7 linked regions of the Homo sapiens genome follow. The protein of the gene in region 1 purifies or fractionates together with the protein of each later gene. This does not show direct contact. Each region holds a gene or a part of one and is shown on either strand. Other genes may lie near its edges.

Evidence for each region.
Region 2: the proteins of KLF8 (region 1) and ZNF611 purify together in Homo sapiens (affinity purification with mass spectrometry; one large-scale study listed by BioGRID and IntAct). This does not show direct contact.
Region 3: the proteins of KLF8 (region 1) and PRRC2C purify together in Homo sapiens (affinity purification with mass spectrometry; one large-scale study listed by BioGRID and IntAct). This does not show direct contact.
Region 4: the proteins of KLF8 (region 1) and SGSM3 purify together in Homo sapiens (affinity purification with mass spectrometry, with the first as the bait; one large-scale study listed by BioGRID). This does not show direct contact.
Region 5: the proteins of KLF8 (region 1) and CLPX purify together in Homo sapiens (affinity purification with mass spectrometry; one large-scale study listed by BioGRID and IntAct). This does not show direct contact.
Region 6: the proteins of KLF8 (region 1) and PRRC2B purify together in Homo sapiens (affinity purification with mass spectrometry; one large-scale study listed by BioGRID and IntAct). This does not show direct contact.
Region 7: the proteins of KLF8 (region 1) and MAP7D1 purify together in Homo sapiens (affinity purification with mass spectrometry; one large-scale study listed by BioGRID and IntAct). This does not show direct contact.

The regions. Positions count from the first base shown.
Region 1 is NC_000023.11:56,252,325-56,256,577, forward strand, and holds part of KLF8 (Krueppel-like factor 8), read left to right. Parts: intron 1-4,253. UniProt on the Homo sapiens protein: Transcriptional repressor and activator. Binds to CACCC-boxes promoter elements. Also binds the GT-box of cyclin D1 promoter and mediates cell cycle progression at G(1) phase as a downstream target of focal adhesion kinase (FAK).
Region 2 is NC_000019.10:52,731,881-52,736,792, forward strand, and holds the start of ZNF611 (zinc finger protein 611), read right to left. Parts: upstream 3,165-4,912; 5' UTR 3,121-3,164; exon of another isoform or gene 2,914-3,120; intron 2,581-2,913; exon of another isoform or gene 2,151-2,580; intron 1-2,150. UniProt on the Homo sapiens protein: May be involved in transcriptional regulation.
Region 3 is NC_000001.11:171,589,420-171,593,672, forward strand, and holds the end of PRRC2C (protein PRRC2C), read left to right. Parts: coding exon 1-186; intron 187-1,732; coding exon of another isoform or gene 1,733-1,785; intron 1,786-2,167; coding exon 2,168-2,428; 3' UTR 2,429-4,092; downstream 4,093-4,253. UniProt on the Homo sapiens protein: Required for efficient formation of stress granules.
Region 4 is NC_000022.11:40,404,771-40,409,023, reverse strand, and holds part of SGSM3 (small G protein signaling modulator 3), read right to left. Parts: intron 3,931-4,253; exon of another isoform or gene 3,884-3,930; coding exon 3,740-3,883; intron 3,376-3,739; coding exon 3,180-3,375; intron 2,947-3,179; coding exon 2,801-2,946; intron 2,587-2,800; coding exon 2,362-2,586; intron 2,008-2,361; coding exon 1,953-2,007; intron 1,824-1,952; coding exon 1,696-1,823; intron 1,612-1,695; coding exon 1,456-1,611; intron 1,236-1,455; coding exon 1,181-1,235; intron 954-1,180; coding exon 904-953; intron 748-903; coding exon 595-747; intron 398-594; coding exon 327-397; intron 251-326; exon of another isoform or gene 231-250; coding exon 182-230; intron 92-181; coding exon 6-91; intron 1-5. UniProt on the Homo sapiens protein: May play a cooperative role in NF2-mediated growth suppression of cells.
Region 5 is NC_000015.10:65,178,539-65,182,791, forward strand, and holds part of CLPX (ATP-dependent clpX-like chaperone, mitochondrial precursor), read right to left. Parts: intron 1,667-4,253; coding exon 1,506-1,666; intron 514-1,505; coding exon 396-513; intron 1-395. UniProt on the Homo sapiens protein: ATP-dependent chaperone that functions as an unfoldase.
Region 6 is NC_000009.12:131,484,102-131,488,354, reverse strand, and holds part of PRRC2B (protein PRRC2B), read right to left. Parts: intron 3,670-4,253; coding exon 3,565-3,669; intron 3,408-3,564; coding exon 3,215-3,407; intron 2,691-3,214; exon of another isoform or gene 2,605-2,690; intron 2,271-2,604; coding exon 2,173-2,270; intron 1,189-2,172; coding exon 1,061-1,188; intron 500-1,060; coding exon 259-499; intron 1-258.
Region 7 is NC_000001.11:36,169,121-36,173,373, forward strand, and holds part of MAP7D1 (MAP7 domain-containing protein 1), read left to right. Parts: intron 1-1,850; coding exon 1,851-2,195; intron 2,196-2,392; coding exon 2,393-2,461; intron 2,462-3,343; coding exon 3,344-3,507; intron 3,508-4,243; coding exon 4,244-4,253. UniProt on the Homo sapiens protein: Microtubule-stabilizing protein involved in the control of cell motility and neurite outgrowth. Facilitate microtubule stabilization through the maintenance of acetylated stable microtubules.

The sequences.
Region 1 (4,253 bases):
TATTTTTTCGTACACATTCACCATGACCACCTCCTCCTCAACACCCCACTGCCCTTCCCAGCCTCTGGTAACCATCCTTCTACTCTCTATGTCCATGAGTTCAATGGTTTCGATTTTTAGATCCCACAAATAAATAAGAACATGTGATATTTGTCTTTCTATACCTGACTTATTTCACTGAACATAATAATCTCCAGTTCCACCCATGTTATTGCAAATGACAGGATCTCATTCTTTTTATGGCTGAATAGTACTCCATTGTGTATCTGTAACACATTTTCTTTATCCATTCATCTGTTGATGAATACTTAGGTTGCTTCCAAATCTTAGCTATTGTGAATAGTGCTGCAACAAACATGGAAGTGCAGATATCTCTTTGATATACTGATTTCCTTTCTTTTTGGTATATACCCAGCAGTGGGATTGCTGGATCATATAGTAGCTCAATTTTCAATTTTTTTGAGGAACCTCCAAATTGTTCTCCATAGTGGCTGTACTAATTTACATTCCCACCAACAGTGCACAAGTGTTTTCTTTTCTCCACATCCTCACCAGCATTTATTATTGCCTAACTCTTGGATAAAAGCCATTTTAAATATCTCATTGTAGTTTTGATTTACATTTCTCTGATGATCACTGATGTTGAGCACCTTTTCATATACCTGTTTGCCATTTGTATGTCTTCTTCTGAGAAATGTCTATTCAAATGTTTTACCCATTTTTAAATTGAATTATTAGACTTTTTTCTATTGAGTTGTTTGAGCTCATTATATATTCTGGTGATTAATCTGTTGTCAGATGGGTAGTTTACAAATATTTTCTCCCAATCTATGGGTTGTCTCTTCACTTTGTTGATTGAATCCTTTGCTTTGCAGAAGCTTTTTAATTGATGTGATCCCATTTGTTCCTGTTTGCTTTGGTTGCCTGTGTTTGTGGGGTATTGCTCAAGAAATTTTTGCCCAGACCAATGTCCTGGAGATTTTCCCAAATATTTTCTGCAGCAGTTTCATAGTTTGAGGTCTTAGATTTAACTCTTTAATCCATTTTAATTTAATTTTTGTATATGGTTAGAGATAGGGTTCTGGTTTCATTTTTCTGCATATGGATATCCAGGTTTCCCAGCACCATTTATTGAAGAGACCACGCATTCCCCAATGTATGTTCCTGGCACCTTTGTAAAAAATGAATTCTTTGTAGATGTATGGCTTTATTTCTGGGTTCTCTATTTTGTTCCATTGCACTGTATGTTTGTTTTCATGCCAATACAATGCCATTTTGGTTACTATAGCTCTATAGTATAACTTGAAGTCAGGTAATGTGATTCCTTCAGTTTTGTTCTTTTTGCTTAGGATAACAGGCTATTCTCGGTATTTGTGGTTTGATATAAATTTTCGGATTTCGTTTTTCTATTTTTGTACATAATGTCTTTTTTTCTTTTTCTTTTTTTTTTTTTTGAGATGTTGTCTCACTCTGTTGCCCAGGCCGGAGTGCAGTGGCACAATCTTGGCTCATTGCAACCTTCACCTCCTGGCTTCCAGCAATTCTTGTGCCTCAGCCTCCCAAGTAGCAGGGACTATGGGCATGTGCCACCATGCCCAGCTAATTTTTTTTTTTTTTTTTGGCAGAGACGGGGTTTCACCATGTTAACCAGACTGGTCCTGAACTCCTAACCTGAAGTGATCCACCCACCTCTTTGTGTTCCCAAAGTGTGTCAACAGTGAACAATCTGACAAAGCAACACTTTGCTTCCCAAAGTGTTGAGATTACAGACATGAGCCACTGCGCCCAGACAAGAATGTCATTGGTATTTTGATAGGGATTTTATTGAATCTGTATTGTGTTTTAGGTAGCATTGAAGCAGGATATTTCCTTGACCCCTTCGTGGGTGGGAACTGGAGTGCACTGGTGCTGGACCTAGCTGGCGCTTTGGCACTAGCAGGGGCGAATTCCACTCACTTAAACCTGCTGTGTTCTACCCCTTGTGGGAGGGGAATCACAGGTCAGTGGGTGCAGGAGCTGGGGTGAGTGCCTTTGGGCACCGGCAGGAGCAAAACTCTATGCGCACCCCACAGCAGAGTCCGGGGGGCGGGGTGCCTGCGACCCTTGAAGCCCCAGAAGGAGTGTTACAGTACCCTTTTAGCTTTGCTGTTTGCAGATGGCTTAAGCATTAACAGCTCACCAGAGGGTCAGTGTGACAGCCTTCTGCACCCACACTGAAGTTCTTGTCTGGCATCCAGGAGGAATGAGGTTACACAATGAATCAAAGGTGGTTAATGTGGGAGATTTTATTGCTGATCAAAGTGGCTATCAGTGGGAGGGGGAGCTGAAAAGGGGATGGAGTGGGAAGGTAATCTTCCCCTGGATTCCAGCTGTCCCCATCTGGACTCCTCTCCAAAGCTATGCCATCAAGCTGTCCCTCTGAAGTCAAGCCACTTCTCTCCAACATCCAACTATAATCTCCAACGTTTAGCTGCTTCTCCTCTTTCTGCCAGCTGAGCCTGGGTTTTTATGGGCACAGGATAGGGGGCAGGGTCAACCATGGGTGGTTTTGGAAAAGGCAACATTCAAGCAGGAAAACGGAAATATAAGTTCTCACTTTGGACTGTGGTTCCAGGCTTCAGGGTGGGGCCCTCACCAGGGACCTGCCCACTTCTGCCTAGAATTTCCCTGCCTCCTGTCCCTGTCAGTATGGACATTTCAACAATATTGATTCTTCCAATCCATGAACATAGAATATTTTTCCATTTTTTGATGTCCTCTTCAATTTCTTTCTTCAGTGTTTTATAGTTTTCATTGTAGACATCTCCCACTTCTTTGGTTAATTTGTAGGTATTTAATTTTATGTGTGGCTATTGTAAACAGGTTTACTTTTTTATTTCTTTTTCAGATTGTTCACTGTTGACATAAAGATGCTACTGATTTGATTAGTTTGATTTTCTATACTGCAGCTTTACTGAATTTGTTTATGGGTTCTAATAGTTTTTTGTGGAGTTTTTAGGTTTTTCCAAATATAGGATCATATCATCTGCAAACAAAAATAATTTGACTTCTTTTTTTCCAATTTGAATGCCCTTTATATCTTTCTCTTTTCTGATGGCTCTAGCCAGGACTTCCAATACTATGTGGAATAACAGTGTTGACAATGGGCATCCTTGACATGTGCCAGGTCTTAGAGGAAAGGCTTTCAGTTTTTCCCCATTCGATATGATACTAGCTGTGGGTCTGTTTTATATGGCTTTTATTATGCTGAGGTGTTACTTGTATCCCCAGTTTTTTGAAGGGATGTTGAATTTTATCAAATGCTTTTTCAGCATCAATTGAAATAATCATGGTCTTTAATCCTTCATTCTGTTGATATTATGTATCACATTGATTGATTTGTGTGTTGAACTGTCTTTGCACCCAGGGATCCCACTTGGTCAGGATGAAGGATCTTTCTAATATATTGTTGAATTTGGTTTGCCAGTAGCTTGTTGAGGATTTTTGCATCAGTATTCATCAGAGATATTGGCCTGTAATTTTCTTTTTTTGAAGTGTCTTTGTCTGGTTTTGGTATCAGGGTAATACTGGCCTTGTAGAATGAGTTTGGAAATAGTTCCTCCTCTATTTTTCAGAATAGTTTCAGTAGAATTGGTATGAGCTCTTCTTTAAATGTTTGGTAGAATTCAGCTGTGAAGCCATCAGGTCCTGGGCTTTTCTTTACTAGGAGACTTTTTATTATGGCTTCAATCTCATTACTTGTTATTGGTCTGTTCATGTTTTGGATTTCATGGTTCAATCTTGGTAGGTTATATGTGTCTAGGAATTTGTCCATTTTTTTCTAGATTTTTCAATTCATTGACATGTAATTGCTCATAGTGGCTACTAATGATCCTTTGAATTTCTGCAATATCAGTTGTAATGTCTCCTTTTTCATTTCTGATATTATTTATTTGGATCTTCTCTCTTTTTTTCTCATTAGCCTGGCTAAAGGTATGTCAATTTTGTTTAACTTTTCAAAAAACAACTTTTTGTTTCACTGATCTTTTGTATTTTATTTCAAATTCTTTTAATTCTCCTCTCATCTTTGTTATTTCTTCTACTAATTTTGGGGTTGGTTTGCTCTTGTTTTTCTATTTTTTTTTCCAAAAGAATATGCAGGTATCATTGCTTTTCTAGGTCTTTAAGATGAATTATTAGATTGTCTGTTTGAAGTTTTTTCTGTCTTCTGATGTAGGCACTTACAGCTATAAAACTTCCCTCTTATGACTGTT
Region 2 (4,912 bases), on another chromosome or scaffold:
GAATCGCTTGATGCTAGGAAGCCAAGGTTGTGGTGAGCTGAGATCATGCCATCGCACTCCAGCCTTGGCAACAAGAGCAAAATTCCCTCTCAAAAAAAGAAAAAAAAATGGCCGGGCGGGTGGCTCACGCCTGTAATCCCAGCACTTTGGGAGGCTGAGGCGGGCGGATCACGAGGTCAGGAGATTGAGACCATCCTGGCTAACACGGTGAAATCCTGTCTCTACTAATAATACAAAAAATTAGCTGGTAGTGGTGACAGGAGCCTGTACTCCCAGCTACTCCGGAGGCTGAGGCAGGAGAATGGCGTGAACCCGGGAGGCGGAGCTTGCAGTGAGCTGAGATCGTGCCACTGCACTCCAGCCTGGGTGACAGAGCAAAACTCCATCTCAAAAAAGAAAAAAGAAAACAGAATAACTCACAGTATTGAGTTATTCTGAATAACTCACAGTATTGAGTTATTCTGAATAACTCACAGTATTGAGTTATTCTGAATAACTCACAGTATTGAGTTATTCTGAATAACTCACAGTATTGAGTTATTCTGAATAACTCACAGTATTGAGTTATTCAGAATAACTCACAGTATTGAGTTATTCAGAATAACTCACAGTATTGAGTTATTCAGAATAACTCACAGTATTGAGTTATTCAGAATAACTCACAGTATTGAGTTATTCAGAATAACTCACAGTATTGAGTTATTCTGAATAACTCACAGTATTGAGTTATTGAGTTATTCAGAATAACTCAATGTATTGAGGGCTAAGTAGGCCAGACACGGTGGCTCCTCCCTGTAATCCCACCCGTAATCCCAGTAATTTGGGAGGCCAAGGCAGGAGGATCCTTTGAGCCCAGGATTTTGAGACCAGCCTAGGAAACATAGTGAAACTCCGTTTCTACAAAAAAAAAAAAAAATACAAAAACTAGCCGGGCTTGGTGGCTCATGCCTCTGGTCTCAGCTACTCAGAAGGCTGAGGAAGGAGGATGGCTTGAACTTAAGAGGTCGAGGCTGCAGTTAGAGGAGATCACGCCACTGCACACCAGCCTGGGTGATAGAGTCAGACCCTGTCTCAAAATATTAATTAATTAATTAATTAAATGTATTTTGTAACAACAGACAGTGACTATTTTCCCACTTCACTGACCCACGTCCTACCCCATCCTAGGAAAAGGGGAGACAGTGATTCACAACTGAATAAGTGACTGCCCTCTGGCAAATAGGGATTCCAAGTGGAACATAACCTCTGATGCCAAGATTTATAGAATGTACATGTCTTATAGATACGAATTTTAAAATTCTCAATCTCATCTGTGTAATTTAAACAAGTTTTTAGTTATTAGATTATATATACAGAACTCAACATGTCACAACCAATCATATCCAATGAACTCACCCACTCATCTGAACCCAGTCTCTCGCCCCTTTTTTTTTGTTTGGAGACAAGGTCTCGCTCTGACGACCAGGCTGCAGTGTAGTCACATGATCTCAGCTCACTGCAGCCTGGACCTCCTGGGCTCAAGTCATCCTCCCAGCTTGGCCACCAGAGCAGCTGGGAGTACAGGTGCACACCATTATGCCCGGTTATTTACTTACTTTTTTGGCGGGGGGGAGGTCTCACTATGTTGCCCAAGCTGGTCTCGAACTCCTGGACTCAAGCAATCCCCTTGCCTCAGTCTCCTAAAGTGTGGAGACTACAGACTACAGGCGTGAGCCACTGTGTCCAGACCCTCTTTCTTCATTACTGTGCTTCCCTCCCTAATTCTGTACATATCTCTCATTCTCCCCTTCTCTCTCTAGCTCTTGTTTTCTTTTCTTTTTCCCTGGGATTCTGCTCTTCATTTTGTACCCCTCTCCTCTCCTGCTATTCATCCCCTTCTTCCCTTTATTCCTTCTCTTCCACCTCTTCTCCTCCATCCTCACAACTTATTTAACCTCTTATTGCTCCTTCTCCCCAATCTTTCAATCGTCCTCAATCTCCATCTATTTCTGCCTCTTCTCCCATCTCTGCGCCTCCTCTGCTCTCCCTGTTAAATTCCATCTTCCCCGATATACTCCCTTGTCCCCACTCTGTGTCTCCCCAGATCCCAGCTGTCCTCTCTGCTGTGGTTCTCCCTCTGTTCTCCTTGACACAAGCACCACTCTGCTCTGTCTGCCCTGGCTCCAAATCCTTCCCTCTCTCCCTCACTCTGATGAGTCTCCCTCTTTGCTGCCACTCCCCCTACCTTGTGATCCTTCATCTCTCTGTACATCTATCTAGCCTTTCTCTACATTTCTCCGGTTGCTTTTCTCCTCCTGCTTTCTTAGGTTTTTTTTTTTTTTTTTCACTTCTGCCATCTCTTGGCATATCCCTCACCAATCCTCTATTTTGCCATCTGTTATGGGCCTTTCTTATTCTTCTTTTCTCTGCCTCAGGTTTTCTACTGCTCTCTGTCTCCTGATTCCTTTGGCCCACACAATCGCAACACGGTTTGGAGTAAGACGCCTGCATCCCGGAGGAGCGCATTTTCCACGCCCTGGAGCTCCGCAGGCAAGAATACCCCGTGCCGCAGGACAGGCCCCTGGGACCTCCCCAGTGCAGGTTCAATGAAAGCGGTGACTGCGGAGGGGAGACCTGGGGAGCAGCAGGCCCCGGCATGAGGAGGAAGGTGCGGGGCGGGGGGGGGGGGCGCGACGGCGCCTTAGGACCAGGATGGGGTCTGCAGGATCCCAGGACCTGGCAGAGGACTCGGCCTCCCCGGGACTGGGGCTGCGGCGCGGCGCTCCCGGGGCTGAGGAGGGGGAGGCTGGGAGGCGCCCTGGGCAAGAATCCACATCGCGGGTGAAGACTTTAAAAAGCGCGGGGCGCGAGGAGTCAGAACAAGGTTTTCAGCAGGAAAACTACGCAACAGAAAGTGTATACATTGACCTATAGCAGAAAGACCGGGGACGAGACCAGCCTCAGGACGACTTTAAACCCAAAAGGAAGCGACCCTCGGGCTCTCACGGGGATGTCTCAATTTGCTCTGGGCAAAGGAAGACGCCGGAGAATTTCCAGGTCTGTGGGGACCCCACGTCCCAGGGACAGAAGCCCTGGGAACCTAGTTAGCGCAGACTTAATACAACACAGAGCAAAACTCACCGCGGCGATATGACCTACACTCCACCCGATCCGCTTCCGGGTTTGCGTTAATCTGCGCGCGCAGGACAAAAGCCAGGCCTGGGCGGGAAGTGGGAGGTAGGCGGGGCCTGGGCGAGGTAGGGGCGGGGCGCGAGGCGGAGAGACCTTGCCTTTTAGAACCGGCAGAGGGCAGGGCCGGGGCGGGATCTGCGCGTCTCTCAGCCTCGCTCCCAGCGTCTCTGTTTTCAGGTTTTGGAGGCGAGAGCGCCAGAAAGTCTGAGGCATGATACAAAAGCCCTGTTGAGAGAAGAGAGAGACCCTCTGACATTGTTTTATATTGTTTTATAGTCAGTAAAAACAACAGGAAGTAAAACCAAAGACAGGCAGCCCCGCGCCAGGCCCGAAACCAGGCCTGGATCCGCCTGGCCTAAACCCAGTAGTTAAAAATCAACTTATGATTTAGAAGCTGATGTTAGGCATAGATTCCAGACATTGTATAGAAGAACACGGTGAAACTCCTGCCCTGTTCTCTCTCTCCCTGATCACCGGTGCATGCAGCCCCTGTCACGTATCCCTTGCTTGCTCAATCAGTCACTATCCTTTCATCTGAAATCTTTAGTGTTGTGAGCCCTTAAAAGGGACAGAAATTGTGCACTCGGGGAGCTTGGATTTTAAGGCAGTAGCTTGCCAATGCTCCCAGCTGAATAAAGCCCTTCCTTCTACAACTCGGTGTCTGAGAGGTTTTGTCTGCGACTCGTCCTGCTACACTGTAATTGTCTGGAACAGGGATACAAACTAGAATGTGAAATGCAAAGCCCTGCCTGGGCGGTATGTACCATGTCATGCTGAGGTCCCACAGAACAGATAGATATCCTCTCCCTTTCTATTGTCCATTCACTCCGGAAGGAGACTCCGCCCTGTGCTCAGCTTCAGAGACTTCCCTGAAGCCACCGCCTGGAATGCCGGACGGAGTGCTCAGGCCGAGAAGGAGTGAGGTCACCACCTGCTGCTTAAAGACAGCAGAGGCGCGGGGGCGGGAGCCTGAGGTCCCAGCTACTCAGGAAGCAGCGGCGGGAGGATCCCTGAGCCTCGGGTTCCAAGCCAGCCTGAGCGACAAAATAACGCCCACTGCCGCGGTCTCCCTTTCTTGTCTCTCTCTCTCTCTTTTTTTTTAAAAAAAACTTTCGCAAATAAAATTTTTGATTGTGTGACATAGGGATCCAACATTATTCTTTTCCATGTGGATATCCAGATAGTTGTCCTAGCACATTTATGGAAGAGATCTATTACTTTCTTGTATTATTATTATTATTATTATTATTATTATTATTATTTTTGAGACAGAGTATTTCTCTGTTGCCCAGGCTGGAGTGCAGTGGCGAGATCTCGACTAAATGCATCCTCTGCCTCCTGGGTTCAAGCGATTCTCCTGCCCCAGCCTTGGGAACAGCTGGCATTACAGGCGTGCGCCACCATGCCAGGCTAATTTTTGTATTTTTAGTAGAGACGGGGTTGACCATGTTGACCAGGCCGGTATCGGACTCCTCACTCCAAGTTATTTGCCTGCCTCAGCCTCCTAAAGTGCTGGGGTTACGGCGTGAGCCAACATGCCTGGCTAATTTTTTGTATTTTTAGTAGAGATGGGATTTCATCGAGTTAGCCAGGACGGTCTCTATCTCCTGACCTTGTGATCCGCCCGCGTCGGCCTCCCAAAGTGCTGGGATTACAGGCGTGAGCCACCGCGCCCGGCCAGAAATATTCTTTTTTTTTTTTTTTTTTTTTTTAAACGGAGTCTCACTCTGTCGCCCAGGCT
Region 3 (4,253 bases), on another chromosome or scaffold:
AACACCTTCCCAGCGCCTGTTCAGAGGCCACCAATGGCACTGGCCAGTCAGATGCCTCCTCCGCTGACCACAGGCCTCATGAGCCATGCTCGTTTGCCACATGTAGCCAGGGGTCCTTGTGGATCACTATCTGGAGTCAGAGGTAATCAGGCCCAGGCTGCGTTGAAGGCTGAACAAGACATGAAGGTTAGTACAGTGTTAACAGCCAACAGATCAAGAATCTGTCTCTGAACCATGTCTTAAAATGCCTCTGGACCCATAACTGTATATCCAGGCATTCATTGTCTTAGCAGACTTAACCAAGCTAACTACTTTTATTCATTCCCCCTTTTTTTTCTTTTTTTTCCCCCATTCCCATTCCTTTCATCTTTTTTTTCTTTTTGTTTCTTTTTCTTTTTCTTTTTTTTTGCAACTGTAGTCAGGAAATGAATTAATGTCTTAAACTGTGGCCAAATGAATTGTTATCAAATAAATATTTGAGGGAGATCTGAGTTTAGATGCACACTTTTTTTTGGAATAGCAAAGAAGTAATATCAATTATTATAGACTTCCCCATTTTCTTTCTTTTTTTTTTTTTTTTTAATATATATTTTCTTCCCCCCTTTCCCCTGACTCTCCTCCTCCCAGCAGCTTAAAATGTAAATCATGGTTATATGAAAACTCTGGAATGGGTAAGATGTGTTACTATCTTAGTACTTTTTTCCATTATGAGTCATCAAAGTACAGTTTTCTTCTCAAACTGTTTTCATACCCTTATTGGCCTACCACATGAGGTGGTTGTATTCCACAGTGGATTGTGCAGTTATAGATGAAGAACTCAGAAAAGCACTTTGGGATCCTTCATGATGAAAGGCACTGATAAACATGAGGTTTGCTAATGCAGAAAGAGTGCCTTTAGGAGTCTGTGTGGGGACAGTTTTGTAGCATAAACCTTACATGTCTGCCAGTACAGCCAGTTGAATCCGTTTATTTCTATATTTACTTTAGGCTTGACTTTCAGGGATCTTAGTAATTTTTGCCTGTTTTGTCACTACATATGTCATCAGATCAGACTAGAACAAAGAAAAGCTTACTGCTTTCAAACAGGGAAATGTGCATAGTAATGCTTTACTCTGAATTAGAAACATGTTTATGATAATCCTATTAGAAAATTTGATTGATTGATTAAAGTGTCTTTTTGGGTCGACATCCCTAGTGTTTCTGATCCTGAGTAATCAAATTTAAAGACTACCCAGCAGCAAAACTTTTATTAAATAATTATCTACTTTTATTAAGGCTGTATGCCTAGGATTTCCATCTGTTTGTTATAATTAGAAATACCAGTGTGAGTAAAAATCTTAGGAAGTTATTTGGCCTTGGATTCCAGTTCTACTCCTGGCTCCTTGGCTCTTGATTTTCGCATATTCCCATGTTGGAAATAACATTAGAGCTTAATAGTAGTAATGGGGTGGGAGAGGGTACAAACTTCTTGAAAATTGCTTCAGATCTTTGGATAGTACAGGTTACCTATAGAACATAAAGCATTTTTTTAATATGCAAGAAGGATGGAAACTTAAGTTTTAATTGTGAATGTTACAGTGGTAAAATTTACAGATTTGACGTAAGTATATTTTTGGGGGCACATAGTCAAAACTAAGAAATTATTTACCAGCTCAGAATGTGGTAGGAGCTATCAGAACTTAGTGATCAAGTGAAGTCGTAGTTACTAATTTCTGATGCTCTTCCCCTGCAGAAGAGAGCTGTGGGAAGAGGACTCAGCCACAAGACATTTGGTCCTAGGTGTTGGTAATGCCACAATATAAGTGCTTCCTTTTCATTTTATTGTAGACCACATATTGATAACTAGAAGTTTTAAGTGTTACATGTATGTTTTTAGATTTGCAAGCAGGTTCCCTAAATAAAATTTAATATGAGAGGGCAGACCTTGAAAAGGTGGTGGGAGGTGGTCCTGTGGTTTTTTTTTTTTTTTTAAATCACATGAAATATTTCAAAAATAGGAAGAAATCTATTCATTAAAAGCTCAAAGATCAATGAGGTACTTTTGGCTTTGGCCAAACCAGTGTGGGGAAAACTGATTTGTGATTGGTAAAAGAATTTGAACCAAGATTGATTTGACAGGCTTTGGTAATGCTGCAGTATTTTCAGTTGTTCTTTCTCATTTTTTAAGGCAAAGCAGAGAGCAGAGGTTCTTCAGTCCACGCAACGGTTCTTCTCTGAACAGCAACAGAGCAAACAGATAGGAGGAGGCAAAGCCCAGAAAGTGGACAGTGATTCAAGTAAACCTCCTGAAACACTGACCGACCCTCCTGGGGTCTGTCAGGAAAAAGTAGAAGAAAAGCCACCCCCTGCACCCTCCATAGCCACCAAACCTGTTAGAACTGGACCAATCAAACCTCAGGCGATCAAAACCGAAGAAACAAAATCTTAAAGGCTATGGTTTATTGCAGGGGATTGGGAGGGGGGCGGGAAAACATGGAGAATTAAGTCAGATAATGCTGGCAGCCAAAGGGGCAAAATGGCCTGTGACATTATCCTGTTCAGAGCTTGGAGATGTACAAGGGACATAGGAGCAATTTACACTGACACACAGCTGCTGTACCAGTGAAAACGAGGCTTTGCAAGCTTGTACCTACTATATAACATGTGCTTGGTTGATGGCCATGCATCTTCAGTCAGAATTTATATATAAATGTATGCACCCATTTTTTTGAGTGCATATAATTTAGACCTAAAAATCCTTATGATTAGATGAAACACCAAAAATATAAGGAAAATAACACAGCAGAGGAATAGCTCAGCCTGAACAGTGTGATGGTCCCAGCTACTACATCAGATGCGGTTTTTTTGCTCCCTTATGTTCTTCGGATATGGTTATGGCATTTGTAGGCTTGGAGGTAAAGAACTGAAGATAACTGGTGCTGGATAGAGGAGCCTTATTTTTTATTATGGCAGCTTGCTATTTTTATAACATGGTGATTGAGTTGAACACAATCAAAGTACAGTAGTAACTGATGTCCCCTTCTTCCTGGATGAATGAGCAGATAAATATTGATGTCAGCATCCTTGAACCATATCAAAGTGAGCAGTGTTTGGCTACTGCTTCTATTTGAAATGGTGCTGTGTTTTGGTTGTGGTCTGAAGCTTTGAAGCGCTACTTAGCATCTCCTTTCTTCCATGGAGCTCTCACGATTCAAACATGACAGATTTGGTAAAATGCTGGTTAGGTTGAGTCTTCCTTGCCCCCACTCAGTCATCTTTGTATGAATCCCATGATTTGGGGGTTTTTTTCTTTTTTTTTTTATACCAGTTTTTAGCTGGTGTTTATGAAGAACAGTGAGTACCTAGAACTGTGCCACTAATTAAAGGAAATCCTAAGAAGGTGCATTTCTTTACAGAGCTGTGTCATGCCATCCTTTGGGCCCTCTGCTGGAAAAGTAGAATCAAGTCTCAAATAATGCCTTTTTAATTGTATCCTCTAGTATTATAGATATAGGACAGTACTGTATCATACCTCTGTGAATGTAAAATATCTTGTACCTGCTTTATGATACGTAGTAGTGACCGTGCTTTATCAGAGCTGTTTTTAATGATGTTATTCTAGAATGTTTTCTTTCCAGATGATGATTCAGAAGCTAATTTTAAAAAACGGTGCCAGGTACCACAACAGTAACAGAACTTTGCAATTTTCTGGGGTTTTGTTTTTTACCTTTTTCCCCCCTTTTTTTTAAATGGAGTGTGCTGGATGTCTCTATAATTTTATTCAGATGACTGCAGAACCTGGAAAAGCTGTTGCTGCTATTGATGCATAACATACTGCTATTGGTCTTTTTATATAAATATATATATATATATACATATATATATATAATTTGAATTTTTGGAAACTTTAGCTGTGCTGTCAACTTTGGAAAAAGTATCCCGGTTTACTGTGTTGAGTTGGCATTGTACAGAAATTAACAGCCATATTGGTCTAGAAACGTTAAACTTAATTTTTTTCCATTTGTACAGGGGTAACGCACTGTATTAAATATGTAAGGTCTTATCTACATGGGTTTGATTACAGAAACTAATAAAGTATTCTCTAAATAATGATTCTTGGAGCTTATAATCATTTCCTAAAATCTGAAGCAAGAGGGTTTGTCATGTATTAAAAATAGTGGTCAAGAGTACTGGCCAGTCGCAGTGGCTCATGCCTGTAATCCTAGCACTTTGGGAGGCCGAGGCGGGTGAATTGCCTGAGCTCAGGAGTACGA
Region 4 (4,253 bases), on another chromosome or scaffold:
CTCACTTGAGCCCCACGCAGATCAGTGAGCGGAGCTTCACATCCATTTGTGCATGCACTGCATCGTGGGTCACGTTCACAGACTGCACAGCCTGGGAACGGCACCGTCAGCTGTCACTCAGGCTCCCCCACAGGCTAACCCCAGAGAGGTCTCTAGGGTCTGGCAGAGGAGGCCCCCTTACCCGGTAGAGCAGCTCCTCCGGGGTCAGGACTTTGCCATCTTCATCCAACCTGAGGGGACACCAAAGCTCCTGGGGTGCCGGGGCTGGGTCAGGCCCCGCCCTCCCACTGCTGGTGACCCCACCAGAAGAACCCGGGCCGAGTTACCTGAAGGTCTTACAGAGCACCAGACGGGAATACACGGAGGCAAAGTCTCTCTCGACCTCCCGGCCTGCAGCCTGTGGGGACAGCACACGGTGTGAGTGCAGGGACAGGAAGATGCTGGTTCAAAGCCCTTGGGGCCGACTGGGCACCTGTCACCACGCTGCCAGCTCTTCCCATCCTCTCTGTGGGGCAGGAAGGACCTAAGATGGGTACTAGGGGGCACAGCAGGGCTGGTGCAGGGTGGGGGTCATGGGCCCAGCCACTGACTTACCTCCTCGATAAACAGCCAGGGGTGGCAGGCGCCCCCAAGCAGGGATGGCTTCTTCAGTCCATGTTCGAACAGGGCCTTAAGGGCCGGGCAGAGGGTCCCTCGCACGAGGTCTGTGACCCCCTCCGTCACCGAGTCATCCCCCGCGATGGAGTACTGATGGGAGGGATGGGTCTGAGAAAGCCCTGCCTGACGCCTGCAGCCAGTCACCCTCCTCTGTCCTCTCTGCCATGCTACAGGCCAGGACTCGCTAGGCACGCAGGCCCTGGCTAGAAGGGTGCCAGCCGTGCCTAGCCCGCCCACCCCCCTCACCTCTTTGCTGCGCTCATCCAGGACTTCCACGAACTTGGCTGGAAACCAGCCTGTGGGAAAAACAGGCCCTGTAAGGAGCAACCACGAGGGCCGAGGACAGAGCAGACACAGCCTGCAGGCAGGCTGAGGCAGTGGGAAGCCGGCTCAGCTGCTTCAGGGACCTCAAGCCAGGCAGGTGTATAGAGGAGAACAGCTTGGTGGCGGCCAGGGTCACCCAAGTCTTCTGTGCCCACCCCCTCCTCCCTCTCCCAGCTCAAGAGCAGACCAAGGACCCCACCTCGCAGGCCGTTGAGCTCCCCCACCCAGCAGTGCTCGTCCTTCTGAGACACGATCTGCACAGGAGGAAAAACAGCAGGAACCAAAGCTGGGTGCCCTGGGCCAGCGCCTCCTGCACCCCCGATATGACTCCTCAGCAACTAGGCCAGGCCAAGACCCCTACATCTTCACAAGAGAAGCTCTTGGCAGGGAAAGGGGTTGGGGTGGGGCTTGGTGGAGGGAGTCTGGGGAACCCGCCACAGCCTGAGGACCTGGTAGTCCAGCGCCCCCACGCACTGTGATGATGTCGTTCTTGCGGAAGCCCAGCTCGTCGTCGTCGTGCCGCTCAAAGTCCAGCAGGGCCTTGGCTCGGCGCCGGTGGCTGCGTGAGCACGCCACGTAGTTCTCGTGGTCCCGCTGGTGGCTCTCCATGCTATAGTCTGGAGTCAGCTCCTGCCACAGTGAACACAGGCCCACCAAGGGGGTTGGAGGAGTTAGGGCCGTGTTTGGTAGCAGCCCAGGGAGCTGGCGACTCACCACGCTGCAGTTTTTGGGGTCTGTGCACTGGAAGTGGCGTGCCACGCGCAGGATGGCTTCCCGGAGGTCAGCCACCAGTTCCGTCTGCTTGATGTTCTTGGCCTTGAGTGCCTCCAGGTCATCCTCCCCTAGGAGGCCCAGAGAACCATGGTGACCACAGCCCACTCCAGGCCCCCGAGGAGGAAGCTCCACGTCCACATGAGCGTGAGGACAGACTCCCGCATGCCCACACTGCCTGGCACTCGCAGAGCTCTCACCGAAGAGCAGAGCAGTGATGGTGGACTTCCTCCGCTGGGTCCTGCGGCGAACAACCTGCACCAAGAGGAGTGGGTCAGGGTGGTCCTGGCCCCGGGAGGAAGAGAACCCACCAGCCCTTGGCTTATACTGTCTCATCTGAAATAGCCTCTGACGCTGGCTCCAAGAATTGAAAACAGATAATCAGAGCTGGGTCTGCCTTCCTCCCAAACCGTGCCAGGATCAGAACCTGAGGTGCACAAAGCCTGAGGAGGCCTGGATCACCCCACAGCTGTGGTCTGACTGGGCCAGGCTGGGGGGCAGAGCAGGAAGGGCTGGTTTGTTTTCCGCAGCCCCCGCGCTCTGAACTTCAAGGTGACCCCTCCTCCCCGTGTGCTGTGGGTCAAGGTGCGGCCCCCCATCCTGGGCCACCTGAGAGAGGTTGGTGAGGGTGCCGGCCCCCAGGAGCTGGCCCTGGTCTGCAATGAGATAGGCCAGGTGCTTGCGGCGCTGAGTCTCCACGGCCACATCGGTGAGGGAGCCGGCCAGCCGCATGGCCACCCCCAGAAGCAGCTCCGCGTCCTCCATCTGCGACGGGATATCCGATAGCGTGTTGAAGATGGAGGCCGAGTTCTCTGACTGGATCAGCTCTTCCTCCTGGGCCATGCCAGGGCAGGATGGGGGAAGAAGGTTGTCATTGCAGGGACGTGGCACTGAGCTGACCCCAACCCCCATCCTCAGGGACCCGTTTGCCTTGGCACAGTTGTCAGGGGCCAGGGGGCTGGTCTTGCCTGGCCCAGGGAGGTCTCTTGCTCCCCTGCCCCCCATCTCGGGTGCCTACTCCTCAGCCTGAAGTGGGGCCGTGGAGCACCTTGAGGTGCAGCATGCCCAGCGTGAGCTGGAACAGCACCCGGGAGCCCTCGTAGAAAAACAGGTCCCAGATGCGCAGGAGCAGCTTGATGTCCACCACGCTGGCGAAGGCCGTGAGGAACCAGTGCAGTGTGATCAGGGACAGCTCTGTAAACACAGGAGCCAAAGCCGCTGGGGAGGAGGTGGTGGAAACCTCCCTCCCCGGAACTGCAGCAAGGTCCTCCCTGCTTAAGAGCAAAGGAGGGGAGGGGGCAGGGAACACCAGAGAACAAAAGAGCGACAAAGACCATGGTTGGGGGGCTGTGCCCTATCCCCACTCGGCCACCCGCCTGAGTCCTCCAAGCTGCAGAATGGGAGCCAGTGGCTCAGGGGCGCCTTACCAATGTCATGCTCCTGGAGCAGCTTGTCCAGGCGAGGCAGGTACTGGACAATGAGGTGGCGCAGGACCCGCTGGTCAGTCTGGACACCCAGCAGGGTGGTGCTGAAGTAGGAGGCGGGGAGCAGGTCCTCGATGATGGCAGACATCATCCAGAAGGCGTCCTCCTCCTCCAGGAACAGCAGGAGGCAGGCGGCCACCTGGCCAGGGCACAGGGACAAGGGCCTTCTACCCAGGTCTTTGTGCAGATTAGAAAAGGTGCCCCTACCCTAGGGAGACCAATTAGCAAAAGCCTCTTGGGGGGCACGCATGCTGGAACCCAGGCCTTCCCTGGGCTGCTTTCCTTGGCCTGCCTCACTTTCACATCCCTTGGGGAGCGCCTCTGCTTGCATAACGTGCAGCTGCCCCGATCTCCTTGGGGACGCCCCGGAGTGGGAGGCCACTCCTTGTTAGGGGTCCTGGAGGAGGCCCTGGGGCTACTGCCCCGTAGCGGGAGGCCACTCCTTGTTAGGGTCCTGGAGGGGGTCCTGGGGCTGCCACTGCCCTTTCTGGGGCTGTGCTCACCATGCCGGTGCCCTGGCAGTAGCCGATCTCTGGGTAGAGCCAGGCCAGGGCCCGGAGCACCCTGCGCAGGCGGGGCACCCCGATGCTACCCATGCTGGCGAAGCAGGCGTTGCTGGGCATGGTGCGGAGCAGGTCCTTCTCGATCTGTCAGGCAGCCATCGGCACCCACAATAACAAGACCTTGTGACACCCTGGGAGGGAGGCAGACCCCAGGCGGGCTTCTCCCCCAGAAATGGGGATTCCTTGTGTTCCTGATCAAGGTCACCCTCCTCCCTTCAGGGTCAGCTCCCAGCCAGTGTGGAGCCGGGACATCAAATCCAGCTGGGAAACTTCATGCCAGACCACCTGAAAACGTGTGGCCCGAGGCCTGGAGTCTATATTTAGAGTCCCCATCTGTTCCTGAAGTGGACCCGGGCTTGGGAACCCCATCTCCAAGCCCTTCCACAGCACTGATGGCCTTTTGGACAATTCTTTCTTTGGCCTGCAGAGGACCAAGGAAGGAGCAAATATCCTC
Region 5 (4,253 bases), on another chromosome or scaffold:
TTTCTACACATTTAATACAATTTATATATATATATTTCTTTTTTTTGAGACAGGGTCTCTGTCACCCAGGATGGGGTACAGTGGCATGACCATGGCTCACTGCAGCCTCAACCTTCTTAAAAGAAGTAGCTAAGACCACAGGTATGCACCACCATACCTGGCTTTTTTTTTTTTTTTGGAAAGACAGGTGTCTCAACATGTTGCCCAGGCAGGTCTTGAACTCCTAGGCTCAAGGGATTCTCCCATCTCCTCCTTCCAAAGTGCTAGGATTATAGGCATAAGCCGTTTGCACCTGGCCTATATTTATACATTTTACATAATTTACATATTTTTATACACTTAGTAATTTACAGAAAATGTAGGGAAAAAAGAACAGTAGAAGATGTAATACTTACATACAAAGGTCTCTACATGTGTGCACAAGTCGCCACATTTAGGACAGCGCAGCTGGTTTCCACCTTTCCCAGAATTCCCAGAGCCTGATTTCTTACTACTTCCCTCACTTGCTGATTTCTAACGTTTATGAAGGAGAAAAAAGGAAGAGTGTCAATTATTAGTTTCAGGCAACCAACTTAAATGTAAACAATACTGTTTGTAATTAATTTTATAATCTTCTATATTTCTAGGATGAAATTATTAGTATATTTTATAATTCTATTACTGGTGTCAGAAGATCTATTTACTTCAAAAATCAAATCAGTTCTAGTAAATACATATATATCTGCAGTCCTCCTTTGTATAACATGTGCCAACATATATAATAAACAGCTTTCATTCAATGACTCAGGCACTAGAAAATTTACTAAGGGTAAAAAACTACATTTCAATGAAATTGAATCAGGAGTTATTATCATGGTAGGTAGTGACTCTGACTATTCTTAGATCTAACTTTTCTCATCTCTAAAATGGGAATAATTTTACTCACATCAGAGTCACTGTTAAGTATGGATATGTAAGTGTCTCACATTTTGTCTAACATATAAAATTAACTCAAGTGTTAGTCAAATTCACGTAATGAAAAAAACTGTTAAGTCACTGACTCAATACAACTACCAACATAAGTTATACTAGCTACAACATAAAGTTATACCAGAAATATGAAATTTTTAGGCTACCAGAGTAGCCCAACATTAAGTTATACCACAAATCTGAAATTTTTAGGTAGAGGATAAAGTGAGGTTTATACTGCCATGGGTTATAAGAGTTATATGAAAGCAGGAAATGATGGCTATTCCTAATTCAATCCTACTGACTGTCATTTAATGACACTTCTTTACTACTTTGGGGTGTAAGAAATTTTAATTACTGCTTACTATGTGCAATGCTTATAAAAGTATTTTAAGGTTCAAAATGAAACATCTAATTACATAAAATTATTCAGATCATTTTAGCTATCTCATATTTCCTACAGAAAACATATAAGCCAGTAAGAGACAGTACTGTTATATTTTTTTAAAGGAGGGAACTCACAATGTGTACAGATGCCAATAAGATAAAATAATTACCTTATTTCCATCTCCAGAACCATCTTTACTTATCCCATCTTTTGAGGCAAAGTATGCTGGTGTTTCTGTAAAGGATCTAAGAGGAGCTCTTTGCAGAATCTGAGTTTCAAATGTCCCAAGCCTTCCTAAAACTGACATATGAATGCGACCACCAGAAATACCTGAAAATAAAAGGAAATCTACATCAAATATAGACATGCCTCAATAAATCCCCTGGAAACAAAAATTCCTTGAGCATAAAGGAGGTTGAAAAAAAGCTATCATTTTCACAGTAGTATAAACTGAGAGAAAAAAAATGACACCAACGGAGGCAAAGTCCTTTCAAAAACAGGCCAGCAGGTCTGGGCCTCTGAAAGATTCTAAATAAATAAAGGTGTTTCTTTCTGTATGTGTCCTTTGGAAATAAGGCAAGATCACCCACGTCATAACTTTTTCAAAGTTTGAATGGACTTCAACATCTGCCTCACCTGTAAGATTTTGAAAAAGGCCATTTATGCCCTATATTCTTATTATTTCTACCAATGAGAATAAACATCTGACAGCAACTCATCTGTTATTATATAAGAATACTATCTGGGCCGGGTGTGGTGGCTCACCCCTGTAATCCTAGCATTTTGGGAGGCCTAGGCGGGTGGATCACTAGAGGTCAGGAGTTCAAAACCAGCCTGGCCAACATGGTGAAACCCCGTCTCTACTAAAAATAAAAAAAAATTGGCCACGCATGGTGGTGGGCGCCTTTAATCCCAGCTACTCGGGAGGCTGAGGCAGGAAAATCGCTTGAACCCGGGAGGCGAAGTTTGCAGCGAACTGAAGTCGTGCCACCGCACTCCAGCCTGGGTGACATAGCGAGACTCCATCTCAAAAAAAAAAAAAAAAATCTGTAACAATGGAAACAAACTTCAAATGTTCTTTAAGGTCAGGCGCGGTGGCTCATGCCTGTAATCCCAGGGTTCGAGACCAGCCTGGCCAACGTGGTGAAACCCTGTCTCTACTAAAAATACAAAAATTAGCTGGGTGTGCTAGCAGGCGTCTGTAATCCCAGCTACTCAGGAGGCTGAGGCAGGCGAATTGCTTGAACCCAGGAGGCAGAGGTTGCAGTGAGCCAAGATCATGCCACTGCACTCCAGCCTGGGCAACAGAGGGAGACTCTGTCTCAAAAAAAAAAAAAGTTCTTTAAAAAATTGTGTTATTCCACTTACACGTGGTACTTAGAAGGCAAAATCATAGAGTCAGTGAGTAGAATGGCGGTTCCTGGGGGTTGGGGAAAATGGAGAGTTATTGTTGTAATGGGTACAGAGCTTCAGTTTCACAAGATGATGGCAATGGTTGCACAGTATCAATGTACTTAATACTACCGAACTATACACTAAAAATAGTTAAGTCTTGTAAATTTTATATGTATCTTACCACAATAAAAAAATTGAAGGAGCCAGGTGTGATGGCTCACGCCTGTAATCCCAGCACTTTGGGAGGTTGAGGTGGGTGGATCACTTGAGGTTAGGAGTTTAAGACCAGCCTGGCCAACATGGTGAAACCCTGTCTCTACTAAAGATACAAAAAGTAGCCAGGCGTGGTGACAGGTGCCTGTAATCCCAGCTACTTGGGAAGCTGAGGCAGGGGAATCACTTGAACGAGGCAGAGGTTGCAGTGAGCCGAGATTGCGCCACTGTACTCCAGCCTGTGCAACGGAGCGAGGCTCTGTCGCAAAATAAATAAATAAATAAATAAATAAATAAATAAATAAATAAATAAAGATAGTATCAATCCCAAAAGTAGGCTTAGAAAAAGTAATTGAGGGGGCCAGGTGCAGTGACTCATGCCAGTAATCCCAGCACTTTGGGAGGCCCAGGGGGGCAGATCATAAGGTCAGGAGATCGAGACCATCCTGGCTAATACGGTGCAACCCCATCTCTACTAAAAATACAAAAAATTAGCTGGGCATGGTGACACGCGCCTGTAGTCTCAGCTACCCGGGATGCTGAGGCAGAAGAATCGCTTGAACCCAGGAAGCAGAGGTTGCAGTGAACCGAGATGGCACCACTGCACTCCAGCTTAAGCAACAGAGTCTCCGTCTCAAAAAAAAAAAAAAAGAAAGAAAGAAAGAAAAAGAAAAAGTAATTGAGGGAGAGTGACAGATGCAATCAATCAAAATGACCATTCACCAATCATAAAATCCTCATAAAAATGATAAAGCTCTGTAGCAAAGTAATTGGGATTTCTAACACTTTTTGTGCCATGAACCCCTTAAGCAGTCTGGTGAAGCCTCTGAATAGATCTTCTCAGAATAATATTTTTAAATGTATAAAATAAAATACATAACAAAGGAAACAAATTATAATGAAGTAGTTATCAAAAAATTTTTAAAATATGCCTCTTTATTAACAAGCAAAATTAAATAAGATCTAACAGCTTTTTAAATAATTACTATGATTTCAAAGTAGCAAAAAGTATGGACAATATTCTGAAATATCAGCAACTATAATGTGATATGAAAATATTTCTGATTTTGATTGATGACAAATCCACAGACACTTCTAAGACTACTGTGGATGTGTTGCCCACATTCATAGGCCAAGGAAACGTTGTGTTTCAGTTAGAGCTTAGTGAAAATAAAGTTCACAGAATCTCTGAATTCTATTCAAGGACCCTTTGGAGGCCTGTAAACCCCAGGTGAAGCTCTGAAAGCCAAAAAAGAGAAGTGTTTCTGTAAAGTATATTTCACCAGATTACCTGGCAGCAACCAGAAAA
Region 6 (4,253 bases), on another chromosome or scaffold:
GAGACAGAGGTTGTAGTGAGCCGAGATCATGCCACTGCACTCCAGCCTAGGCAACAGAGCGAGACTCTGTCCAAAAAAAAAAAAAGGTGATGGGGCTACTCAGAAGAGGCTGATTTCCTGCACGCTGAGGAATGGGCACGGTGGCTACCAACCAACAGCACGATAGGCCAGCACACACTGAGAGGCGGGTGAAAAGAAAAGGCAAGGTCGTGAAGGAAAGAAGCCTAGGGCTTTGGGTAGAGTGACTGAATTCCTGACCTGTGGGAGCTGGGAGTCCAACATCTGGGAGGCACCCAGGCCAGCAGCCTGGCTGAGCTGGCCCTCGTAGACCAGGGCTTGGTTCCCGCTCATGGGCTGGTAGGGTGAGCCAGACTGCGGCTTCACCATCTCCAAGGGCTGCATGCCTGGGAACGCCGAGTATGGAGGCTTCAAGGCTGTGCCCCCAGAGAGGATCATGGTGCTGGGCGGTGACAGGCTGGGGTGCATGTACACCTGAGATCTGCAAAAGCCAGACAGATGGTCGGGATCAGGTGGATGAGTCCAGCTGCGGATCTGGTCCCACCCTTCAGAGATCCCCGGAGAGCTTGCTAAACCACAGATCCCCGGCCCCACCCCCAGAGCGCGACTCAGAGGGTCCAGGATGGGGCCTGAGAACAAGCTCCTAGATGGCGCTGATGCTGCTGGATTAAACAAGTGAAGACATCCAGGCTGTACGAGGCACAGGACATCAGCCACAATGACTGGCAGCCACACTGACGGAGAAGCCCGCGGTGGGGAGGAGACAGGGAGTCAAGGGGAGAGGAGGAGGAAGGAGCAAGGAAAGGAGGCAAGATGACATGGAAAAGCAAAACACGGCCCACCACATATCAGCTCGCCCCAGGCCTCTCCTAGAGCACAGTTAACAACGGACTGAAGAGTGATTCAGAGCAAACTCCCACCCCTCCCCGCCCCACTGGCCCCAAAGCAGACAAGCACCAAACAGCTGCAGGACGAAGGCTGCACACAGGGCCAAGGCCCTGGCTGTGAGCTGCCAGCTCCGCAAGCTGGTACATGAGCTCACCTGAAGGGCTGCAAGGAGCTGAAGATCTCCTGGGACTGGGACACAGGAAGCCCACCCCTCAGTCCAAGCTGAGCTTGTGCCTGCAGAGATGTGTGAAGGGAGATCGGGATCTGCTGGGCAGCGGCGGCCTGTGAACGGGAAAACGGGGTCGGGGAGGTAACCGCAAGGCCCATCCAGGTGGTTCTTCCCCTCCCACCTCCCCTGCCCCTCTCCACATGGCTGCTGGAACACTGCCCAAAATTCAAATGCCAGCATGTCATTCCTGGGCTTCCCTTGCTATTGGGATAAAGCCTATAATGAAAAACTGGTAGCAACCCCAAACCACAGCATATCCCTACCCTGGAATTCTACACAGCAACAAAAATGGATCCTAGCACATACGTCAACAGAGGTGAGTTCCAAAAACATAACGCTGAATTTAACAATGCACAAAAAGAAAGATACATGCAGTCTGACCCAGTTATGCAAGAACCAAAATCTTGGTAACCAAACAATACAGCAGTTAAGAACATGTTTTTAAAAAGAGGTCAGCAGAGGCCACATCCTCCATCAGCAAGCCTGCACTTGGAGCAGATTCTGCCTGGAAGTCCACTGTCGTGGCTGTGGAGGCACATGGGTCTGAGGGGCGGCTAGACCATCCCAAAGGCCCAGCACCAGCATTAGAGGGGAGACTTCCAAAAATCACCCCTTGGCAGCACAGAAAGTATGCCAGTCCTGCATAAATAACCAACGCCTGCTCATTTCTAAGACTACCTCTTTCTAATGCATCCATGCCTGGGAGTTTAGGCCTTTCTTCTCTTCATCAGAAGGATACCTGATCACCAAAGAAAATTCCATTTTAGCTAATTCCCCGGCTAGGACACAGGAGGGAGAACTTTGAGAAAGGAAAACTAAGCAGAGTCTGGAGCAGCCAACTCCACTCCTCTTCCCTGTCTCGATTATTCGCTTAACAAATGCCTCCTGGCTGCCGTGGCGGGCCAGGTGCTGGTCACCACATGTGAGGGGGATGGAAAACCAGACAGACAATGAGAAATAGATGAGCAAGCCAATTCCGCCCTGCACTGGCTCCTCCCCACCACCCCCAGCCAGGCCACCTGGCTAGCTGCTGTCACCTGTTGGTAACTCTGCTGCTGAGGTATCGTTTGAGGAACCAGCCGGGGCTGACTTGCAAACACATGGCCATCCAGGTACAGGGGCGGGAGGTGGCTGCCTGGAAACAGAGCGGCAAAAGGGACGTAGAAGAGGATCAAGCCTCACTACTTCTCAATGTCCCTGAGGGAAACAGTCTACAGGTCTGCTCTACCCAGGGGACTCAGTGGGGACGAGGGCGTGTGTACAGAGGCTGCTAGGTTCCCTGTGTGCCGGAAGCACACGCCTGCTCACAACACGCCTGGCACGCACCTCAGGGAACGTAGGGAGGGTGCAGCGTCAGACCTAGGAGGAGGGAGGAGGCAGGTGGGCTCTGGCCTACCCTTCCCACCTCCCACTCACCAACTACCCCAGACACTCGAAGGGGCATTCTACTTTAACCAGGGCTGCCTTGGTCTCTCAGTCACTGTCCTCTTCATCTCCCTGCTATTGAGTCCACAGTGGAGGGTCAGAAGGATCTATTGGAATTACATCACTGAGACTGGCAGCTGGGCCCTCAAAACCCCCACGCTTCCCCTTGGGGACACTGGCACACGATAAGGATGGCAGCAATCAGGACAAAAGTAGCTGCCAGTGACTGAGGGCTCTGTTGATACAAAGCCCTTTCCAGGTAAGACCTGGCCTCACGGGTGTGGCCACCCCACGGAGTTTCATGTAAGAGAGGAGAGGACACTGTGGCTCGGCAAGAGCTGCTCACCAGCCGAGGCGACACGGCTCCAGCACATGACCCAGGTCTGACTCAAAGTCAAGCCTTTGCTCGCTCCTGTCACCAGTAGGCAGGAGTGCCTCGCTGTTATCCCCCAGTTCTGTTTCCCAGCGTGGGGAAGCAGGACGTGCACATTACCTGCAGCACATGGGAGCTACGACCACTGGGCCTAAAAACAAGTTGCTACTTCTACATGCTACTTAAGACAAGGCCAGGAGGTGACATTCGGGGCTGTTAATCCGTTTTTCTTGATAATAAATGGAGAAGGACCCCAAGGCCTTGCTCAGGGGATGAGATACCTGGCATAGAAGCAGAAGGTGCTACAGAGGCCACAGGCATGGGTGGCATGGACACTCCACCGAAGGAGCTGTAGTTGACCCCGCTGGAGGCACCCACAGAGGATGGAGGCTGGATGCCTGAGCCAGCGCCGCCTGGAGAGCTCTGCTCCGGCAAACTGGGGGAGTTTTCCCAAGCCTTGCGCGCAGACTCCATCTTCAGAAGCAAGGGGAGGGGGAGGGATGAAAATTACTATCACGCTGGCAGTGGACAGAGCCAATCTAAGCTTTAGGGGTTCGGGGACTCCTCCCTTCTGCCTCTTTGTAAGCTAAGGTACTGGGTGGGCCCTCACCCAGCTCAGGGCTGGTGTTACCTTCAGAGTAAGGTCGGCGGTGGGGAAGGACATTGGGGAGAGACCGATGGCCCTCTGGATGTGATGGTCCCGCCGCAGGATGGGGATACTCTGTGTTAACCCTGCCTGGAGAGGAGGAAAAGGAAACCATGGAACACAAACAGGTGCAGAGATGGCTTTGCCCAAACCCATCCATGGCTCTCCTGAACACACTCAAGGCTCGTCCAAATGTATCTATGACTTGCCCAAACCCATCCATGGCTTTTCCCAAAAGCACCTACAGCTCCGTGTCTATGAATTGTCCAAATGCATCTTCAGTATTGGCCACATGTACCCAAGACCACCCAGATGAAACTGATGGCAGCCAGGACCATGACTGATCTCCTGGAGATGGCTGCCTCCATCAGTTTCCTCCACACAAGTCTGCAGAGAGCCACCCCCATATCCACACTCCATAGTGCCCTCCAGACAGGGAGAGCCATGTCCCGGCAGTATAAATATGGACTGGCAGCCCGCACACAAACATCTGGTTCAGAAGGCACCTGCCACCTGGCCTGGAGATGCCCTGGGCCAGACAGGGAAGGCTGTGCCCCTCAGCAAACTGAAAAAGAGGGCTCTGGTAACAGAGGCTGGAAATGCAACAGTGCCCCCGCTTCCTGCAGATCCCCGGTGTCCATCTGCATGTGACAGAGACCGCAGACTCTCGAGTA
Region 7 (4,253 bases), on another chromosome or scaffold:
AGGTGCCTGTAATCCCAGCTACTTGGGAGGCTGAGGCAGGATAATCACTTGAACTTGGAAGGCAGAGGTTGCAGTGAGCCGAGATCGTGCCAATGCACTCCAGCCTGGGCAACAGAGCAAGGCTCTGTCTTGAAAAAAAAAAAAAAAGGCCGGGCGCGGTGGGCAGTGGCTCACGCCTGTAATCCCAGCACTTCGGGAGGCTGAGGCGGGCGGATCATGAGGTCAGGAAATTGAGACCATCCTGGCTAACACCGTGAAACCCCGTCTCTACTAAAAATACAAAAAATTAGCCAGGCGTGGTGGCGGGCGCCTGTAGTCCCAGTTACTCGGGAAGCTGAGGCAGGAGAATGGGGTGAACCCAGGAGGCGGAGCTTGCGGTGAGCCCAGATTGCGCCACTGCACTCCAGCCGGGGTGACAGAGCGAGACTCCGTCTCAAAAAAAAAAAAAAAGAAAAATGTTTCCTTAGATGAAGCTTCCCACAGATGCCGGCCCTGCTCCCTAAGCAAGTTGGTAGCTGTGTTCCCATTGATCTCCTCAGTGCCTGGATGGTAGCAGCAGATGGCACCAGGGCTCAACATACAGAAGCTTCTGTTTGGGAGACCAGGAGGCTTCATAAGACCAACAGGGAGTGCTGTTTGCTGGCTGGCATGTGGATAGTGCCAGGCACCTTGCTGACATTCCCTACTAGCTTGGGCTTGTTATCCCCATTTTACAGGTATCAAAACTGAGGCTGAGCCAGGCATGGGCCTGTAATCCCAGCTACTTGGGAGACTGAGGCAGAAGGATCTCTTGAACTCAGGAGTTTGAATCCAGCCTGGGCCACATAGCAAGACCCTATCTCTTAAAAAATAAAAATTTAAAAAAAGAGACTTAAAGGAACTAACTAGACCCTTGAAAAATTCACTAGCAGCAAGTAGACTTGGGGGGAAACAAAACAAAACAAAACAAAAAAACCTGAGGCTGAGAGAGGTTGACTGGCTTGTCCATGGTTGTCTGCTGGGGAAACAAGCCCTCTCTTCCCATCTTCCTCATCTGACTGACTCTGAAGCCTGTCTCTCAATTGCCCCACATGTGTATATGTCAAATCGTGTGGCTCCCTTACTTCACTTCGATGTCTTTTACAGGATTCCTACAATAGTCATGTCTTAAAAGCAGAAATTTCGGTGTGGCTTGGGGAAAAAAGATTATAAAGTGGACGTAGCTTGTTGCCAATGGAATCTTCACAGCAAAGCATTCCACTAGAGCCCATACTTACGTCCTTCCTCTTGGTCAGTCCCATGTGCCCAGCACTGGCACCCTCTGTGAACAGACCTTGGGTTGGGCACAGTCACCCAGAAGTAAAGCAGAAAGGAGAGGGAGGCAGACATGGAAACAATCAGTGCATTTGGTGCACGAATAAGTGCTACAAGCTTGTTCTCAGCTTTTCCAACACACCCTGCTCCATTCTGCCCCTTCGCATATACTCTTCTCTGCCAACACCTCTCCTCCTTGCTTTGCTGACTCCAGCTTATCCTTCGGATCTCAGCTTGGTTGTTACTTCTTCAGCAAGCCCTCCCCATATAGGTTAACTATCTCTGCTTTGCTGCCCCAGACATAGTATTTATTCTCTACTGTAGTTGCCTAGCTATTTGTCTGTCTGCCCTGCTAGAGGGTAAGCGCCACAGAGGCAGGGATCATGGCTATTTTCTCACCATTATATCATGAGTATCTGGAACAGGGCCCGGCACATAGAAATAACTCAAACATAAGTGAATGAAGAAGTCGGTTGAACAAGGGAGAGGGCCACATATGGGGCTGATGGCACAGATGAGCAATCTGACCTCTCTCCTCTCTTGTGTTGGTCTTTCAGCTGTGGTCGCCAGGACCCCCCCAGAGCCAAGACCTTCTCCAGAAGGTGACCCTTCCCCCCCACCACCACCAATGTCAGCCCTGGTCCCCGACACTCCCCCGGACACCCCTCCTGCCATGAAGAATGCCACTAGCTCTAAGCAGCTCCCACTGGAACCAGAGAGCCCCTCAGGGCAGGTCGGGCCTAGGCCAGCCCCCCCGCAGGAAGAGTCCCCTTCCTCTGAAGCAAAGAGCAGAGGACCCACCCCACCAGCCATGGGCCCACGGGATGCCAGACCTCCTCGAAGGAGCAGCCAGCCATCTCCAACAGCAGTGCCAGCCTCCGACAGCCCTCCCACCAAGCAAGGTGTGTGTAATGACCCCGGCCTGGGCCTAAACCTCTTGGCTCAGGGTCCTGGCCCTGGATCATGCCAACTGAAAGAGTCCTGTTTGCCCTAGAGGAGATAAAGAAAGGATGGGGTGAGGCCCGGAGGGAGGGATCTGAGGCTGACTCCTCTTTGGGGACAGCCTTTTGACCTGTCTGTTCTTGTTCCCTCTGCTCAGAGGTGAAGAAGGCAGGAGAGAGACACAAGCTGGCAAAGGAGCGGCGAGAAGAGCGGGCCAAGTACCTGGGTGAGTGAGCAGGAAGCCTCATCATCTTCTTCATCGTCATCATCAGCATCCTATTAATAACACCAACAGGCTGGGGCGCAGTGGCTCACGCCTGTAATCCCAGCACTTTGGGAGGCCGAGGCGGGCGAATCACCTGAGGTCAGGAGTTTGAGACTAGCCTGACCAATGTGGAGAAACCCTGTCTCTACTAAAAATACAAAAAATTAGCCAGGCATGGTGGCACATCCCTGTAATCCCAGCTACTCGGGAGACTGAGATAGGAGAACTGCTTGAACCTGGGAGGCGGAGGTTGTGGTGAGCCGAGATTGTGCCATTGCACTCCAGTCTGGGCAACAAGAGCAAAACTCCGTCTCAAAAAAAAAAAAAAAAAAAAAAAACCAACACTTCTGCAACACTTAATTATGTGCACTGTGCTAAGAGCAGGACACACATCTAATTTAATCCTCAACCCATTTTGAGGAGGAAACAGAGGCTCAGAGAGATGAAATCATTTGCTTAAGCCACACAGCTAGTAGAGTAGCTGACATTCAGACCCAGAAGCCTCCTGCCACCCCAAATCCCATGCTCTTAATCACAGTATGTGGACATCTGTCTGGTAGGCCCCCCAGGTCAGATGGGGATCTTGCACTCAAGCATTCATTTCTCCTTCAGCCCTGAGAGCCCATAAGGCCAATGGAGGAGAAATAGGCCTCTCCTGAGTCCTGTCTTCAGTAAGCCTCTCAATTTGAGGGGGTTGTCTCAGACTGAAAGCTCCACCTAAGCAGGCGGGAGAAAGACCCACCCAGGGCATGGGTAGCAGGGCTGGCCACTTGGAGGAAATGTCCTTGGCCCAGGCCTTCTGCAGAACCCTTCACACACGCCACTGGGCTCCTTTGTCCACAGCGGCCAAGAAGGCAGTGTGGCTGGAGAAGGAGGAGAAGGCCAAGGCGCTGCGGGAGAAGCAGCTCCAGGAGCGCCGGCGCCGGCTGGAGGAGCAACGTCTTAAAGCCGAGCAACGCCGTGCAGCCCTGGAGGAACGGCAGCGGCAGAAGCTCGAGAAAAACAAGGTGCGGGATGGGTCTCCGTGAATCCATGTACACGTGTGCTCACCGTCTGCATACTGGTGCAGTGTGTACACACATCCATGTTCACGGCTCTGCCTTATCTGTGTCTATGTGGTCCTATTTGTGTTCACATCTACAGTTGTGTCCCTGTGTTAGAATATCTGGGCACCTGTACAACTGCAGGCACATTTGCTTCTGAATGTGCCACTGTAGGCCCCTGTAACTGTTTACTGTCAGTACCTGTGTTCGTACATGTACCCCATGTGTCTGTATGTATGCAGGTATGCATCTGTGTGAGCGTGCCTAGCTCTGTGACATGGGTAAAGCCCTAGCTTGAGTGCTGGTGAGGAAATGAAGGAAATGGCCACCTGGCCCTACCTGGGAGGGCCTCAGGCTAGAGGGAACACATAGCCCCAAGGTCAGGACCCTCAGTGCCTGAGATGTGGCCTTGCCTGGGAGCCCCAGGTAGGGGGAGTCCACCCAATCCTCAGAGAATCAACTCATGCACTCAGGAAATGACTCAGGAACAGTGAAAAGCTCCCCAAGAACAAGTTGAAAGGGATCTTGGTCCTTAATCATAGCAAGGATTTGGTAACCTTGGTTACCTGCAATGAGTCAGGAAAAGACTCCAAGGGAAGGGAGTGGGGGAGGCATTGTCACAGGAGGAAGAAGGGCCTCTATCCCAAATTCGATGAATGTTCTGAGTCCACATCTCTCTCTTCTCCCCACCTTCCCCCAGGAGCGCTATG